Linked DNA regions of Homo sapiens: region 2 is linked to region 1. A link means that fine-mapping ties the variant in region 1 to the expression of a gene that starts in the linked region. Tissue or cell type: whole blood. Region 1 holds a variant in brackets; the other region holds the start of a gene. All regions are shown on one strand. Distances are from middle to middle.

Region 1 (8,108 bases):
GTCTGTTATGAGAATAAAGGTTAAATCAGACTATTATGGAAATAGAAAACATATAAAGAGAATGCTATGAAAGTCCAGCAGAGGCACAATGATGGTAGGCTAGGGTGCTAAACAAGGAGGAGGTAAGAAGCTGTCAGCAGGTTATTCACCGAAAGTGGAGCTAACAGGATTGCCCCATGCTTGGCCAACTTCTCTTTCTCCATTCCTTCTGGGTGAATCCATCCACTTACATAGTTTAAACCAGTGTTTCTAAAACCTCAAAGTTTACCTGCAGAGCTTTTTAAAACATAGATTTCCAGGTCCAACCTCCGGGAGAGATTCTGATGTAGGAGGTTTGGCCTGAGACTTTGCATTTATTTCTAAGGAGTTCCTGGGTGATGGTAGTCTGCTGGTACACAGGCCACACTTTGGGTGTCCTGGTTTAAATTACTATCCATAGTCTGATGATATGTAAATTCAGGCTTATATATTTCACTATCTTTCAGAAATCATCTCCAACAAACGACACCATTTTTTTTCAAACTCAGGACTAGACACGTCCAAACGTATGTCCTTATTTCTCCTAATACATCTATTTCTTCTTTTGTATTCTCTATCTCACTTGGGGGTACCCCCAAGGACCCAATCATTCTAGCAAAAAAATCCAGAAGTCATTCCTGATTCCACAGTCCTCCTCATCCTCATCCTTCACATCCCACCAATTACCAGGGCATGCCAATTTCACCTAAATATTTCTCAAATCTGACCATTTCTGTCTATCTCATTATGAGTGTTCAAGCCTAAACAGTCTCCTAATAGATTTTATTCACATCAAATCCAACCACATCAGTTTGCCAGAGTAAACTAAGTGAAATGCAAAACAATCATGTCCATCCTTTACTTTCAACAGTTCCCCATCACTGATAGGATCTAGGCCGAGTTCGTTATTAACATGGCATAAGAGGTCCGTGGTGATCTGAACACTGTGCCTGCCCTGCTCTAGGTATATTTCTCATTCACATGTAACTTCCACTTTACATTCCAACAATCTTGAGCTGCTTGCTTATAATACCCTGCATATCCCACATCATTTTGGGAGGCCAGGGCCGTGTTGCTGCTCATGTTTCTCCTCTACCTCGAGTGCCTTCTCTTTCACTCCCAACCCTTCGCTCATCAACTACTCAAAACCTACTCTCCCTCTTAACTGAGCGCAGTGGTCACTTCCTCCAAAAAGCCTTCCTTGATGTCCTTACATGTACTCTCAAAACACACCATGTATTTTTTCTTTTCCTATGCTGACAAAAAAAAAATTAAATTTGTCTGCTTCTGTCTTCCCCATTACATCTTTTAGCTACTTGAGGTCTAGGACTGTGTCTTGTTTATTTCTGTACCTTTCCGTGGCTCCTTGCATATGACCAGGAATTAAGTATATTTTGATAATTGGAGTCCTTTTAGAACTTTCTAAAATTATGAATGCTCTCTCATCCCCCAATAAATACATTAATCTATAATACAAATCTGTAAAATATGTATTGATTTTACAGATTTTTCTGGGAAGGGGTGCTCCCATACCCTCCGATATACACTGGGCTCTGGAGGGAAAAAAAAAGCCAGGTTTGCCTAGTGAGGTGTTCCCTAATAACATGAGAAATGAGTGGTGGAATAGAGACCATGCATTTACCATTTTTCATTTTTAAATATTTCTTGTTACAATTAATGTATTCTGCCTGTGTTATTTTAATTGTCTCCTAGGTACAACATAAGTTCCACAGGGCAGCAGAGATGTCGCCTGCGGTCTATTGCTGCACAAGGGAACTAGAACAGTACTTGAAAGAAAAGAGGTGCTCGATAAATGTTATGGAATGAATAAATGTATCCCCTCTTGAGGGTGCAGAGCTATAGAATGTGTAAGTTACTGCCTTCTGTGTAAATTAGGGTTTGCTTTGTTTTTACAATAAAGTTATGTACATTGTTTCAAGGGCTGTATTCTGTCTATGCTATTTTAAAATTTATAGAATAAAGTGGTATTAGGCTTTTAGTATTTTTGCTCATTTTAATTATATACTATTTTCCTTTTCATATTTTTCTAGGCTAATCTCTTCTCACGTGAAATGACTCCCTTGATTATTCCGATTTCATTGACTCTAAGTAGAAGGCAAACCCTGTGGTATCAATTTACAAAGGGAAATGAAGAAGATGCAGTACATTTAGGTGAAAACAAAATAAACGTCAGTTTCTCCAAATTTGTGTGCTTAGTCAGATCTAAATATATTGATGTAGTGTAAATACTGAATATTGAAATATTAACCTAAATAAGCATTTATTATTGGTAACAGCTACGGGAATATACAGCATGAATGTGACTTGGCTGCTTAAAAACTGTTCCTCAGATGGTTTAAACATGGCCTCCGAGACTTGTTCCCATTTAAATTACTTCATAAACCATTTCCTCAAATATGGTACAAAGTCTATTTTGGCACTTGTTAAGTTGTCACAAATTCTGAGTTGGAAGACTATGAATTAATGAAGTTTTACTTCCTTTTGTAATTTCTTTCCTAGGTTTCATCAAAGACAGTACTTTCGCTTGCTTGTTTGTTTCATTTGAAGAAAAATCAGCCAAAACTATTAAAAACAATATTTGACTGTTTGTAGTGCAATACAAAGCTACGTCTTGAAATTATAACCAACAAAACTCCAAAAATCTGTTTAAGGACACATTTTTAAATTTAGGACCGTAGTATATGCAGTTAACAATCATCATTTCTTAGCACTCTACATTCACTGCCAGCAAACTTTCAACGTATCTGGTTGATAATGAAGCTGGCGGGGACCCAGTGGGAACAGAAGTGAGTGGTACAAAGTAAAGCCGATGTGAATTTATTGCTACTGGTTTCAGGCTCCTTACCTCCATAGGCTTATGCACTGCAATGACCTGATTATCAGAAATACCCTCACAATTATTCATAATACCCATAGCTATAGGCTCCACACTCTTGCGTGTACATTCATGCATCTCCACGTCACACGGGCTGTCATGCTCGCACATGTGCCATTAATTGACAAGAATGCTGCTCAAGTTGGCTGATCAAGAGATAGGCAGTGCAAAGGAACAGGATTTGAGACAGCCCAGGGTTTCCTCTTCAAGTAGGTCTAAAACATTTTTTTTTCTCATTGACTTCCTTCCTGTTCTAACTGCCAGTACTCAGAAGTCAGAGTTGAGAGACAGAGGCACCCCGGACAG[A/T]GACGTGAAGCACTGAATGTAAGTTCAAATACCTCGGGCTGGGGAGGCTTCAGGTGGGCACAGAGCAAAGTCGGAAACCTCTAGACGGGGCTACCGCCCTCGACAGTTTATTATTTTTTTAGAGGGGCAGTTCTTCTTTAAAACAAACTTTATGATAAGAAATTGCTAAGGAGGCTGCAGAGAAGGGGAAGTTAGAGGAGGGAAGGGTAGCAGTGACTCAGGGGAGGAGGCTTAAAAAAGGAGGGTACAGGGTGCGCTGCAGCCCAGGAAGTGCAATCCTGAATATTCTCAGAAGGGCTCTGAGAACACGCACCGGGAGTGCCTGGAGGGGTTTCCTGCAAAGTAGGAGCAGGCACCTGGCCAGGCTTGGAAGAAAAAGACTGTAGATCCAAAATGATACGGTCTGTGCTGGTGGATGGTGGGTTGTGCTGGGGTGGAGATATGTGGTTTCCTGTTTTTAAGCAGACAATGTAAAAAGACTGGTTGAAAGAGAAAAAAAAATGGTTCAAAGCTGTCAAATATTAAACTGTCTTCCACTAAATAATTTTCTGGTGATATAAGAGAAATGCATAATGAAATCCTCCCTTAGAGTGCAGGGGCTTTATCCCTCAAAGAGGAAGTATGGTATAGCACATTGTTATGTACTCATGAGTCATACAGTGATAGAATTTCTACCACTGACAAAGGCTGTGTATTAAATTCCTGCAGTCGGATGGGCAGATCTTTGCTGTTGTTGTCAAAAATAATAATAGGGCTGGGCGTGGTGGCTCACGCCTGCAATCCCAGCACTTTGGGAGGCCGAGGCGGGTAGATCACCTGAGGTCAGGAGTTCAAGACCGGCTTGACCAACATGGTGAAACCCCATCTCTACTGAAAATACAAAATTAGCTGGGTGTGGTGGTGCATCCCTGTAATCCCAGTTATTTGGGAGGCTGAGGCAGGAGAATCACTTGAACCCAGGAGGCAGGGGTTGCAGTGAGCCAAGATCACGCCATTGCACTCCAGCATGGGCAACAAGAGCGAAACTCTGGCTCAAAAAATAAAAATATTAATAATGATAATAGCCCTTTAGGTATGAGATAACTAACAGCAAACATGGAAAACACCAAATAACGTATTAAGAGACAGGTTTGAGAAAAATTCAAGGGGGCCCAGCTAGGACAGCTGATCAGTGGGCCTTCAAAATGTCAAGGTCTGAATTTCAGCCACCATTAGGAGAAGTGCTTTAGGTATGACCTGAAATACTTTCTTCCCTTTTAGAGGACTTCCCAGCCAGCATGTTTCATAAACATAATCTGTAATTAAACTCTAGACCTATGGTAACTTGAGGTGTGTGTCTGGCAAGCCCTGGGCAGTTCTTCATTCAGAGTGGGGAAAGGCAGACTGCTCTCACCCGGAGGGCTCATGGTCACCACTTCACATGGAGACCTAGAGCCCCTGGAGTCAGGGTTGGCCTGGCCATCTTCACTGCAGGGATGGTCAGGCACAGGAGATCAAGAGGACCATGGCACCTGTTGGTCCGGAGAGACAGGGGGCAGAGGTCCAGTCCCTAGCAGGCATCGTGAATCTTGCCATTGGCTTTGTGTTTTTTTAATTTGTAAGAATATATTCCCTCCCAAAGCAGATATAGCACAAGCTTAGTAACAAGAGCATCTTACTCTTTTGTGAGATGTGTGAAATTCTAAGAGACAGTTCTTTCTCCATCCATGCTTCACAGATGCAAAACCTGAGGACTAACTATGCTGTCACTGAACAGAAACTGGCAAGCATTTTTCAGGCCTCGACTGGAATTTGGTCCTTCCTTGCTTTGGAGAGCATGAGTTTGTCCCCTAGGGAAGTTAGCTCTGAGCAACATTAAGGTTCTGTTTTCAGTAGACACTCAGCACCACAAAGTCATTCTGAGGGAAAGATACGGGTCTGAGCTGATTTGGGAGAGCACAGTACATGACAAACATCAGCTAGCAGGAAAAGAGAAGCCCTGGGGAGTCGAAATTATGCAGATAGAAAAGGAGAACCAACATTCATTGAGTGCCTTCTATGTGTCAGGCCTGGTGATAAAAACTTTCAAATTTTGTTCCTGAGAAGAATGCAGAAGTGTTCAATAATTTGACTAAAATTACATACTGATACAAAAAGGATCAATAGCCACAATGCCTCTGAATTGCAATTCACAGGGCATGGTGGTGCGTGCCTGTGGTCCTACCTACTCAGGAGGCTCACGTGATCCTCCCGCCTCAACCTCCCGAGTAGCTGGGACTATAGGCGCGCATCACCACGCTGGCTAATTTTACCATTTTTAGTAGAGACGGGGTTTCTCCATGTTGCCAGGGCTGGTCTTGAATTCCTGGGCTCAAGCAATCCGCCTGCCTTGGCCTCCCAAAGTCCTGGGATTAAAGGCGTGAGCCACCATGCATGGCCTATTATTATTTTTTTGAGACAAGTCTCACTCTGTCACCCGAGCTGAAGTGCAGGGGCGTGAACGCAGCTCACTGCAGCCTCGACCTCCTGAGGCTCAGGTGATCTCCCACATTCTTTAGGAAGAATCACATGGAAGAAATTTTCTCCAATTCCATATTTTGAGAGTTCTTATTCCTGGTTTGTGTTATTGCTGCCCGGGATCCTGTATTCAAGGCTACACTGGCATACCCAGAGATGAGTCTCATGTTGCCCCTGAAACGTCAGCAACATTTATCTGTGCAATAAGCACATCCTGAATCATCCTGTGTTGTGTTACTCTCTGGTGTCCACAGCCAAAGAGTGAATTTTACCGCTGGTAAAAATTCACTTGGGCTTTCTTAAAGAGCCTAATAATCTTAGCACAAACGGTCATAAAAAAAATTCTCTCTCAATTCTGTCTAACTTTTCATGCTAATTTAAAACTTTTGTGAATATATTGAGATACTGAAGGCAATGGCTTCCTTAATGCACAGTTTTCTTTGAGAATTATTTAAAATAATATTTGTGAAGGTACTTGGTGGCATGACTTCACACGTTGGGCACTCAGCAAAGCTCACGGGATCTCTTTGAGTTCTCTCTCTTTGTGCATATGAATGTGGGTTAGAAAAACACACTAAAAAATGCACAGGCAAGAAATAATAAATTGTTTCTCTCACAAAGACAAATGGTAAGAAATTACGTTTCTAGTAATTTGTGCCCTTCTCTGGATTGATTACAATATTTATTGTCTCTTACAAAATAATCTTGTCTTTGGTTTTTCTCATCCAGTTTTGAAGTTTTCGTAGTCCTTCATGGGGCTGAGGTGGTAGAAAGCAGCACCGCAAAGTGGGGAGTATGGATTCCTCCATGTCACCAGGGACAGGGGCGGTGGGGAGAGGGTGGAATCCCGAACCAAGAAGGCTTCTGGTGTCCTGAGAGACAAATTTGCAATCCCGTAATACACCAAATTGCCAGGCAAGCAGCACAGCACATTCAAATCCTTGACTAGCTCTGAAATGTCAACAGTGTTTTAGAGATGGCCTGACTCTCCAGACCTGCACTAGACCCACAGCCCGATTTGGGGGAAGTCAGACATATCCTAGTCAGCAGGGAAAGTGGAGGTAGCAGGAGTTACAGAGAATGCTGATGCTCACATAGGAACTTCTCTGATAGAAATCCCCTACTTCTGGTATTTCCACTTTTCTCTCTCTCTTCCCTCTCTCTCTTTCTCCCTTCTCCCTCCTCTCTCTCTCCTCTTTCTCTCTCCCTCTTTCCCCTCTTCCTTCTCTCTCTCTCATCGCTATCTCTTCTACCTAATACATTAATATCCATGGCCTGTGTGTCTAGATGCATAATCCAGCACAATTTTGCAGATCCAGCTTTGGGCCGTGAGTTAAGTCTCTGTGGTATTTTGCTCCAGAGCCAGAGGGAATTCTCTTCATTAGCTGTGCCTGTGTTCACTGACATTTCTCATCATTCGCAGAGTGACCTCTGGCTTCAATGAAGACAGGGAGCAATAAATAAAACCTAAAATTAAATTGTTTACATGAAAGTTTTTAAAAGAAATATAATATAGTCTCATTTTAAGGTTGATTCAGTTTTTAAACAATCCTTTCAATTCCCCAGAACTTCTTATCTCTTTAATACTCCTCAAAGACAAAAATCTATTTTTAAGGAGGAAGGAGTGGGGACATAGCTCCCATCCAGGGGAAAGTATTTGGTGTGGAAACAGTTACCTAGCTTCAGTGAAGCTTTGCAACAAAGCAGACCACACTGGGGCAGGGAAGGAAGAAGAGGAAGGGAACAAATATTCACGGAACATCTATTCTTGACCAGTATAGTCCTATAATTTTTCATGTGTTTTCTCCAATCTTTCAACCCCGTAAAAAAGAATATCCCCATTTTAGTGGTGATAAAACTGAGGCTCAGTGAAATTAGCAACTTGATTGAGTCCTGTCATAATGCAGAGCCTGGTTTTGAATCCCTGGTCCATCTGACTCAATCTATGTTCTATGAGACATGAAAGTCACCTTTCTCTGAATTACCCAGGTAATTTGTTTAATCTAAACTCAGGAGTTCTACCTTTTCTTGTCCTCAGTTCATTTAGAGCTGCATTAATGAAACAGATGATGCTCTATCCTGACATGGGTGTAAATTTTTAAGTGTAATTCACTTTCAAAGTCTTGGAAATTTCACTGAATTTGCAAGCAAAAACATTGATGTGTGCTATGTCATATGCATGCTGTGAGTAACCATCCTAATTTAATTCGACATTTTAATTGAGCCTGAGAAGATTAAGTCCCCATCTCAGCACATCTAATGCTTGCCAGTGCTTTGCTGAGTAGCAAACATGAGGATGTGAGGCCTCCAATGTGAAAGTTAATCTGTATGCGCATCTGTGAAGCAGAAAATACAGAAAACTAGAGTAGCAAGCCTGTGTGAAAAAATGATA
Region 2 (8,108 bases), 21 kb after region 1:
ATCCTTAAAGTCCATCATATACACAAAGAAATGGAGGCTCAAAAATGTTATATGACTTAGGCCATTGCAGGACTGAGATCAGAACTGAGGTCTCAATTTGTCTGAGTTTTTTAAAATGGTGTAATCTGCTATATCTCCATAAAAAAAACAACAACAACAACAAAAAAAAAAAAAACAGGCTTAATCCCCATTGATTTAGGCCACTGGTTCCCCAACTTTACCTCAGAATCAACTTTGTAGTTTTTTAAAAACACTGATCCCTGGGACCCACAGAAGGTTACTGAACCATAGCCTTTGGAAGTAGGACAAAGGAAACTATATTATTAAAAGGCACTCCAACTTAAAAAATGTTTTAAAGAATAATTTTTTTAAAAAGATGCCTCAGGGCCAGGTGCGGTGGCTCACACCTGTAATCCCAGTACTTTGGGAGGCCGAGGCGGGTGGATCACCTGAGGTTGGTAGTTCGAGACCAGCCTGACCAACATGGAGAAACCCCGTCTCTACTAAAAATACAAAATTAGCCAAGCATGGTGGCGCATGCCTGTAATCCCAGCTGCTCGGGAGGTTGAGGCAGGAGAATCACTGGAACCTGGGAGGTGGAGGTTGTGGTGAGCCGAGATTGTGCTTCCGCACTCCAGCCTGGACAACAAGAGCAAAACTCCATCTTAAAAAAAAAAAAAGATGCCTCAGGTAAATCTAATGTTTATTTAGGCTTGGAAACCATTGCTCTTGACTTTAATCACTGTAGGCTGTAGTCCAGATTCTCCAGTTTGCAGTGTATGTTTTTCCTCTATCAGGCTCTTACCCTAATGAACTCTTCTTTCTTCTTAGTGGATAAAGCAACATTTATGGTTGGCAGCTATGGACCTCGGCCTGAGGAGTATGAGTTCCTCACTCCAGTTGAGGAGGCTCCCAAGGGCATGCTGGCGCGAGGCACGTACCACAACAAGTCCTTCTTCACCGACGATGACAAGCAAGACCACCTCAGCTGGGAGTGGAACCTGTCGATTAAGAAGGAGTGGACAGAATGAATGCATCCACCCCTTTCCCCACCCTTGCCACCTGGAAGAATTCTCTCAGGCGTGTTCAGCACCCTGTCCCTCCTCCCTGTCCACAGCTGGGTCCCTCTTCAACACTGCCACATTTCCTTATTGATGCATCTTTTCCCACCCTGTCACTCAACGTGGTCCCTAGAACAAGAGGCTTAAAACCGGGCTTTCACCCAACCTGCTCCCTCTGATCCTCCATCAGGGCCAGATCTTCCACGTCTCCATCTCAGTACACAATCATTTAATATTTCCCTGTCTTACCCCTATTCAAGCAACTAGAGGCCAGAAAATGGGCAAATTATCACTAACAGGTCTTTGACTCAGGTTCCAGTAGTTCATTCTAATGCCTAGATTCTTTTGTGGTTGTTGCTGGCCCAATGAGTCCCTAGTCACATCCCCTGCCAGAGGGAGTTCTTCTTTTGTGAGAGACACTGTAAACGACACAAGAGAACAAGAATAAAACAATAACTGTGTGTGTTCTGGCTGAGACCTTCATTTCCCTGCTTTCTTGCTTTGAACAAATATGATAACTGGATGGTTCACATTCATGAGTTCCCTCAGAGGGGATGGGGATGAGGAAAACACACTGGAGGAGATATTTACATCTTTGGGAACAAATTGGTCCCCTATTACACTATAATAGGCAATGCACATTCAGAATACAGCCAGTGGGAAATCTACATTTTACTTATTTAGTTAGCTATTTTTAATTTCGACTTTTATATTAGGTATAGAGGGTACATGTGCAGGTTCGTTACATGGGTATATTGCATCCAGGTAGTGAGCCTAGTACTAAATAGATAGTTTTTCAAAAAATGCCCCACTCCCTCCCTTACCCCTCAGGTAGTCCACAGTGTCTACTGTTTCTATGTTCATGTCTATGTGTGTTCAGTGTTTAGCTCCCACTTATAACTGAGAACATATGGAAGTTGGTTTTCTGTTTCTGCATTGCTTTGCTTAGGATTATGGCCTCCAGCTTCATCCATATTGCTGCAAAGGACATGATTTTACTTTTTTATTATGACCATATAGTATATCATGGTATATATGCACCACATATTTTATCCAATCCACCATTAATGGGCAACTACATTAATTCCGTGTCTTTGCTATTGTGAATGGCACAACAATGAACATACATGTGCATGTCTGTTTGGTACAACAATCTACTTTCCTTTGGATATATACATAGTAATGGGGTTGCTGAATCAAATGGTAGCTCTGTTTCAAGTTTTTTGAGAAATCTTCAAACTGGTCACTCTCCATACGTTCGTAAAAATATTATGCCTTGGAATGCTAACGTTACTCCTAAAAATTGGAGTACTCTCCTTGGCCTTACTGTAGAGATAAAAGGTATAGATGTCCTCATTACTTAGAGTTGCTTTCCACAGTGGCTGAACTACGTAACTGCTTAAGCTACATCCCCATGAATAATGTATAAGCATTCCCTTTTCTCTGCAGTCTCACAGTGTCTGTTGTTTTTTGATTTTTTAATAATGGCCATTCTGACTAGTGTGAGATTGTATCTCATTTTGGCTTTGATTTGCATTTCTCTGATAATTAGTAACGTTGAGCATTTTTTGTAGGCTTATTGGCCTCTTGTGTGTCTTCTTTTCAGAAGTATCTGTTTATGCTCTTTGCCCATTTTCTATTGGGGTTATTTGTTTTTTGCTTCTTGATTTGTTTAAGTTTCTTATGGATTCTGAATATTAGACCTTTGTTGGATGCATAGTTTGCATATGCTTTCTCCCATTTTGTAGATTGTCTATCAATAGTTCCTTTTGCTCTGAAGAACCTCTTTAATTAGGTCCCACTTGTCAATTTTTGTTTTTGTTGCAATTGCTTTTGAGGACTTAGCCAAAAATTACTTGTCAAGATTAATGTCAAAAAGAGTATTTCCTAGGTTTTCTTCTAGGACTTTTATGGTTTGAGGTCTTAAATCTTTAATTCATCTTGAGTTAACTTTTTATATGGTGAAAGATGAGGGTGCAGTTTCATTCTTCTGCATATGGCTAGCCAGCTATCACAGCACCATTTATTGAGTAGGGAATCCTTTCCCCATTGATTGGTTTTGTTAACTTTGTCGAAGATCAGATGGTTGTAGGTATATGACTTTATTTCTGGGTTCTCTATTCTGTTCCATTGGTCTATGTGTTTGCTTTTGTACCAGTACCATGCTATTTTGGTTACTGTAGCCTTGTAGTATAGTTTGAAGTTGGGTAATGTGACGCCTCTGTTTTTGTTCTTTTTGATTAGGATTGCTTTAGCTAGTCAGACTCTTTTTTGGTTCCATATAAATTTTAGAATAGTTTCTTTTCTAATTCTGTGAAGAATGACGTTGGTAGTTAGATAGGAATAGCACTGAATCTGTTAATTTCTTTGGGCAGTATGGCCATTTTGAAGATACTGATTCTTCCTACCCATGAGCATGGAGTGTTTTTTCATTTGTGTCACCTCTGATTTCTTTCAAAAGTGTTTTGTATTTCTCCTTGTAGAGATATTTTACCTCCTTGGTTATCTGTATTCCTAGGCATTTCATTTTATTTGTAGCTATTGTAAATGAAATTGTGTTCTTGATTTTACTCTCAGCCTGGACATTATTGCTGTATAGAAATGCCACTAATTTTTGTACACTTATTTTTTTCCTGATACCTTACTGAAATCATTCATCAGTTCCAGTAGCCTTTTGGCAGAGTCTTCAGAGCTTTCTAGGCATACAATCATATTGTCAACAAGGAGAAATAGTTTGACTTTTTCTTTTCCTGTTTAGATGCCTTTTATGTCTTCCTCTTGCCTAATTGCCCTGGCTAGGGCTTCCTAATTTCTTTTGTAATATTTTCACATGAAAATTCTCCTAAGCTTAAAACTACATATCCCAATGCCTGTGGAAATCTCATCTTGGACTTCCTCAGACACTTGTGAGCAAAATCAAACTTCATCTCATTCTTCTGCTTAAGACTTTTCAGTGGTTCCCATCACCTACAGAATAAAATTGATGCTCCCGCGCTTAGTGTATCATATAAAGCCTGCTGTGAGCTGGTCCCAACATGCCTTTCTGTCCACATGTATCACTTCCTTCCTTTTCATCATTCTCAATTACTAGTAATTCTGTCACACATTATATTTGCATATCTGTGCTTTGGTTCTTTTTTTTTTTTTTTTTTTTTTTTGAGACGGAGTCTCGCTCTGTCGCCCAGGCTGGAGTGCAGTGGTGCTATTTCGGCTCACTGCAAGCTCTGCCTCCCGGGTTCAGGCCATCCTCCTGCCTCAGCCTCCCGAGTAGCTGGGACTACAGGCGCCCGCCACCACACCTGGCTAATTTTTTGTATTTTTAGTAGAGATGGGGTTTCACCATGTTAGCCAGGATGGTCTCAATCTCCTGACCTCGTGATCCACCTGCCTCAGCCTCCCAAAGTTCTGGGATTACAGGTATGAGCCACCACGCCCGGCCTGTGCTTTAGTTCTTTACATGAAACTCCCTTTCTACCTTGTGTTGCCTGGCAAAATCTTACTTACCCAGAACTCTGCTCCGGCATCCTCCGCAGGAAGAACACTTTCATTGAACCCTAGCATTGTCCCTAATACCCTTAATATGTATTGTCATAGCACCCTATGAATTTTTCTATATCACTTTCCATCTTATATTTAAATAATCTTTTTACTTGCCCATCTCTCCCACTGATAATCTAAGCTGGCAGAGGCTGGATCAGATCATAATTATCTTTCTATTCTTAGCGCTAGGATCAATGCCTGGCATAGCATATTTACATTTTTTATTTAAATAAACTGACCTGACTTTCTTCTGGTTGGATATGTTCTGAGTCCCTATTACTAACCTTGGTCTTTTATCTCAGAAGTTGAAGGCTCCCCTGGAGCCAGCTGCAAAGTTCCCAAAGCCCTAACAACCCCACAGCCAATCAGCTACAGAGTAGGCTGCCCTGAGTCGGCCTCCCCAACACAAAGTCCAGGGTTGGAGCAGGAGCAGGAGAGGGACAATGGAAGCTGCCCCGTCCAGGTTCATGTTCCTCTTATTTCTCCTCACGTGTGAGCTGGCTGCAGAAGTTGCTGCAGAAGTTGAGAAATCCTCAGGTAAAAGAAAAATGTAGTTGGGTGGCTATAGTGTGAAAGTGTTATTAGGAGAAGGAAAGGGAGCATGGTGGTTCTCTGGGTACTTTTCCTCCACACCTAGAAAGCTTTCCAGGAAATCCTGGATAAGTGCATTTTGCCTGGTAGAGAGTAGGGAAGTCTGGCAGTATCCTTCAGAGACAGACCATCAGTAGGGTCACCTTCCATATGTTAGTAAAAATATTATGCCTTGGAATGCCAACAGTACTCCTATAAATTGTGCTCTTCTTGCCCTTAGTATAGAGATAAAAGGTATAGATGCCCTCATTATTTAGAGCTGCTTCTTCTTGCCTCAGTACCCTGACATCTTCTGCTTCTCTCTCTAGATGGTCCTGGTGCTGCCCAGGAACCCACGTGGCTCACAGATGTCCCAGCTGCCATGGAATTCATTGCTGCCACTGAGGTGGCTGTCATAGGCTTCTTCCAGGTTAGTTCCCTACTTGCAATTCCCCCAAGAGCCAGAAATGTTCTACCTTAAGGGAACCACAGCAGCCACCTGCTGCTGGCAGATGGCACTGCATTAGAAGTGGGGGTAAAGGGAGACAGCCACCCAGTTTGATTTCATCTTGTCCATTGGGACCTCTTATTTTCAAGACATTCCCAGTCTCTAAATTATATCTTTCTCATACTTACTTCAAGAGTTCTGAGCCTGTGGGCTGCATCTCCTCATCTATGGATGCTTTGAAGCTCAAGTCAGTATCTGCAGAAAGAATGCCTTCATGGAACCCCACCATTGTCCTAAACACATTTGGTCTATACTCTCATAGCACCCTATGAATAGGCAGGGGCCAGAGTGAACCCAATTTATATCATCCAGCAACACTGTTTACAGGATGCCAAACATCCTGGACATTAGTCAGTGCACAGCCTTTTAAAGCCTTTCCCCCAAATATGGTAGACTCTCCTTCTTTCTCTTTGCCTTGTCTGAAATGTTGGAAAATGATGGCATTTTGTATATTCAAGGTGTTAACCTCCATCTTCCAGATTAGCTTCTTGACTAAGAAAGGCAGCCATAAATGAGACTGCCTCATTCCAGCATTTTCATCTTTCTCTGGTGGTAGCATCTGGAAATCCTCACAGCTGATCAAGCCCCTACTCTCTCATAGCAGACCTTCTTGTCTGTTTCCATTTCTCAGTTACAACTCCTGATTACCCTGTCAGTTCTGCGTACACAGTTGGAAATCACTGCAATGAGATGCAAGTCAGGGAGAAAGACAGGGACAACATTTTTCAGGAATGAGAAATCTGAGCTGTAGACAAAAACACCGTCAGAAAGATGGGGAAGGGGCAAGAGCATGGAATTGGAGGAGTGTGCAATAACTTAAACAGCCGCCAGATGCCATCATTTTATCCTCCAGCAATTCCATCTGAAGGAGCAGAATAAGAGAGGAGGCCTCAATTAATTATTGTTCATGGCCTCTAGAAGAGTAGATACCAGCTCCCTCTGCTTGACCCCAGATGCAAGACGGGTATGTTAGTTTCTTCTCATGCTGCCAATAAAGACATACCCAAAACTGGATAATTTATAAAGGAAAGAGTTTTAATTGAATCACAGTTCAGCATAGCTTGGAAGGCCTGAGGAAATTTACAATCATGGCAGAAGGAACCTCTTCACAGGATGGCAGGAGAGAGAATGAGCACAAGCAGGGGAATGCCAGACGCTTAAAAAACCATCAGATCTTGTGACTCATGCACTATCACGAGAACAGCATGGGGGAAACTGCCCCCATGATCCCATTACTGCCACCTGGTCCCACCCTTGACATGTGGGGATTATGGGGATTACATTTAAAGATGAGATTTTAGGTAAGGACACAGCCAAACCATATCAACTGGCCATCTTCTTTTCTCCTTGCACATCTCCTCCTTCAGCCTGGGGACTTGCAGGGTAGAACATGTTTGTTCCTGTTAATTTCCTGGAGCTGCTATGGATAAAGGTCCCGTGAGAGCAGGGAAAATGATGCCAGCGTCTATGGAAGGCCTGGAATCACTGTTCGCAAGTGGCTTCTCTGCTGCCTCCTGCAGGCCTGGGCTGCAGAGTTGAATGCGTGAACAGCATCTTCATGTGCAAAGCTCAGGTTTATCTACAGTGGCAAGAGAGGGACTGTCCTTCCATAACCTGCATAAACTTTTGTTAAAACTTCTAAGCTTTCATTTTAATTGTTTTATTTTTCTTCTTTTTTTCTTTTTTGGCCCTTTTGATGGCGTCTATTTCATATTTTTGCATTTTTTCCTTTCATCCACAAATGTAACCAAAGCCAAAACTCAAGAGGAAGAGCCGGTGGGAGGAAAAGCCAGTTTATTTGAAGATCCAGTAAACCAAGAAGACAGCGGACTAGCATCCTAAAGTACATCTTGGCCGGGCACAGTGACTCACACCTGTAATTCTAGCACTTTGGGAGCCTGAGGGAGGTGGATTGCCTGAGCTCAGGAGTTCAAGGCTGGCCTGGGCAACATGGCAAAACCACATCTCTACTAAAAATACAGAAAAAATTAGCCAAGTATGGTGGTGAACACCTGTAGTCCCAGCTACTCAGGAGGCTGTGGCACAAGTATCCGTGAGGCAGAGGTTGCAGTGACCCAAAATTTTGCCACTGCACTCTAGCCTGGGTGACAGAGCAAGACTCTGTGTCAAAATAAATAAACAAAGTACATCTTAAGCCACTACCAATTTTAGGTTCTTTGTATGTTAAGGGCAGGGTGAAGAGGAGGGAGTTGGGATCAAGTGATAACCGGCAACCACAGGCATCTGGGCCCCAGCAAGTGTCTCAGGAAGTTGGGAACTTCTTTGTCCTTGGTCAGGTCACAAGGCACCTATAAATCTGTAGCACTACATAGTTAGTTGTTTACATACTTTTCCTTTAATCCCAGAGTTAGTTTTAAAAACTATATAACTCCTATTTTTGCCTATTATCTCAGTGCTCTAAAATTATT

The links. PIP is the estimated chance that this variant, and not a neighbour inherited with it, causes the effect.
Region 2: it holds the start of ERP27, and the variant in region 1 is fine-mapped to the expression of ERP27 in whole blood (TOPMed, PIP 0.95).

What each region holds. Positions count from the first base shown.
Region 1 is chr12:14,956,667-14,964,774 of GRCh38, reverse strand. It overlaps ARHGDIB (Rho GDP dissociation inhibitor beta), which reads left to right and starts at 3,174. Exons shown (of 6, transcript NM_001175.7): 1 at 3,174-3,238. RefSeq lists enhancers at 3,352-3,471, 4,722-4,831. The variant A/T (reference allele first, on the strand shown) is at 3,221.
Region 2 is chr12:14,935,445-14,943,552 of GRCh38, reverse strand. ERP27 (endoplasmic reticulum protein 27) reads left to right here and starts at 5,016. Exons shown (of 7, transcript NM_152321.4): 1 at 5,016-5,138; 2 at 5,501-5,601. The coding sequence starts at 5,045. ARHGDIB (Rho GDP dissociation inhibitor beta) reads left to right here. Exons shown (of 6, transcript NM_001175.7): 6 at 832-1,522. The coding sequence ends at 1,031. RefSeq lists an enhancer at 5,501-5,560.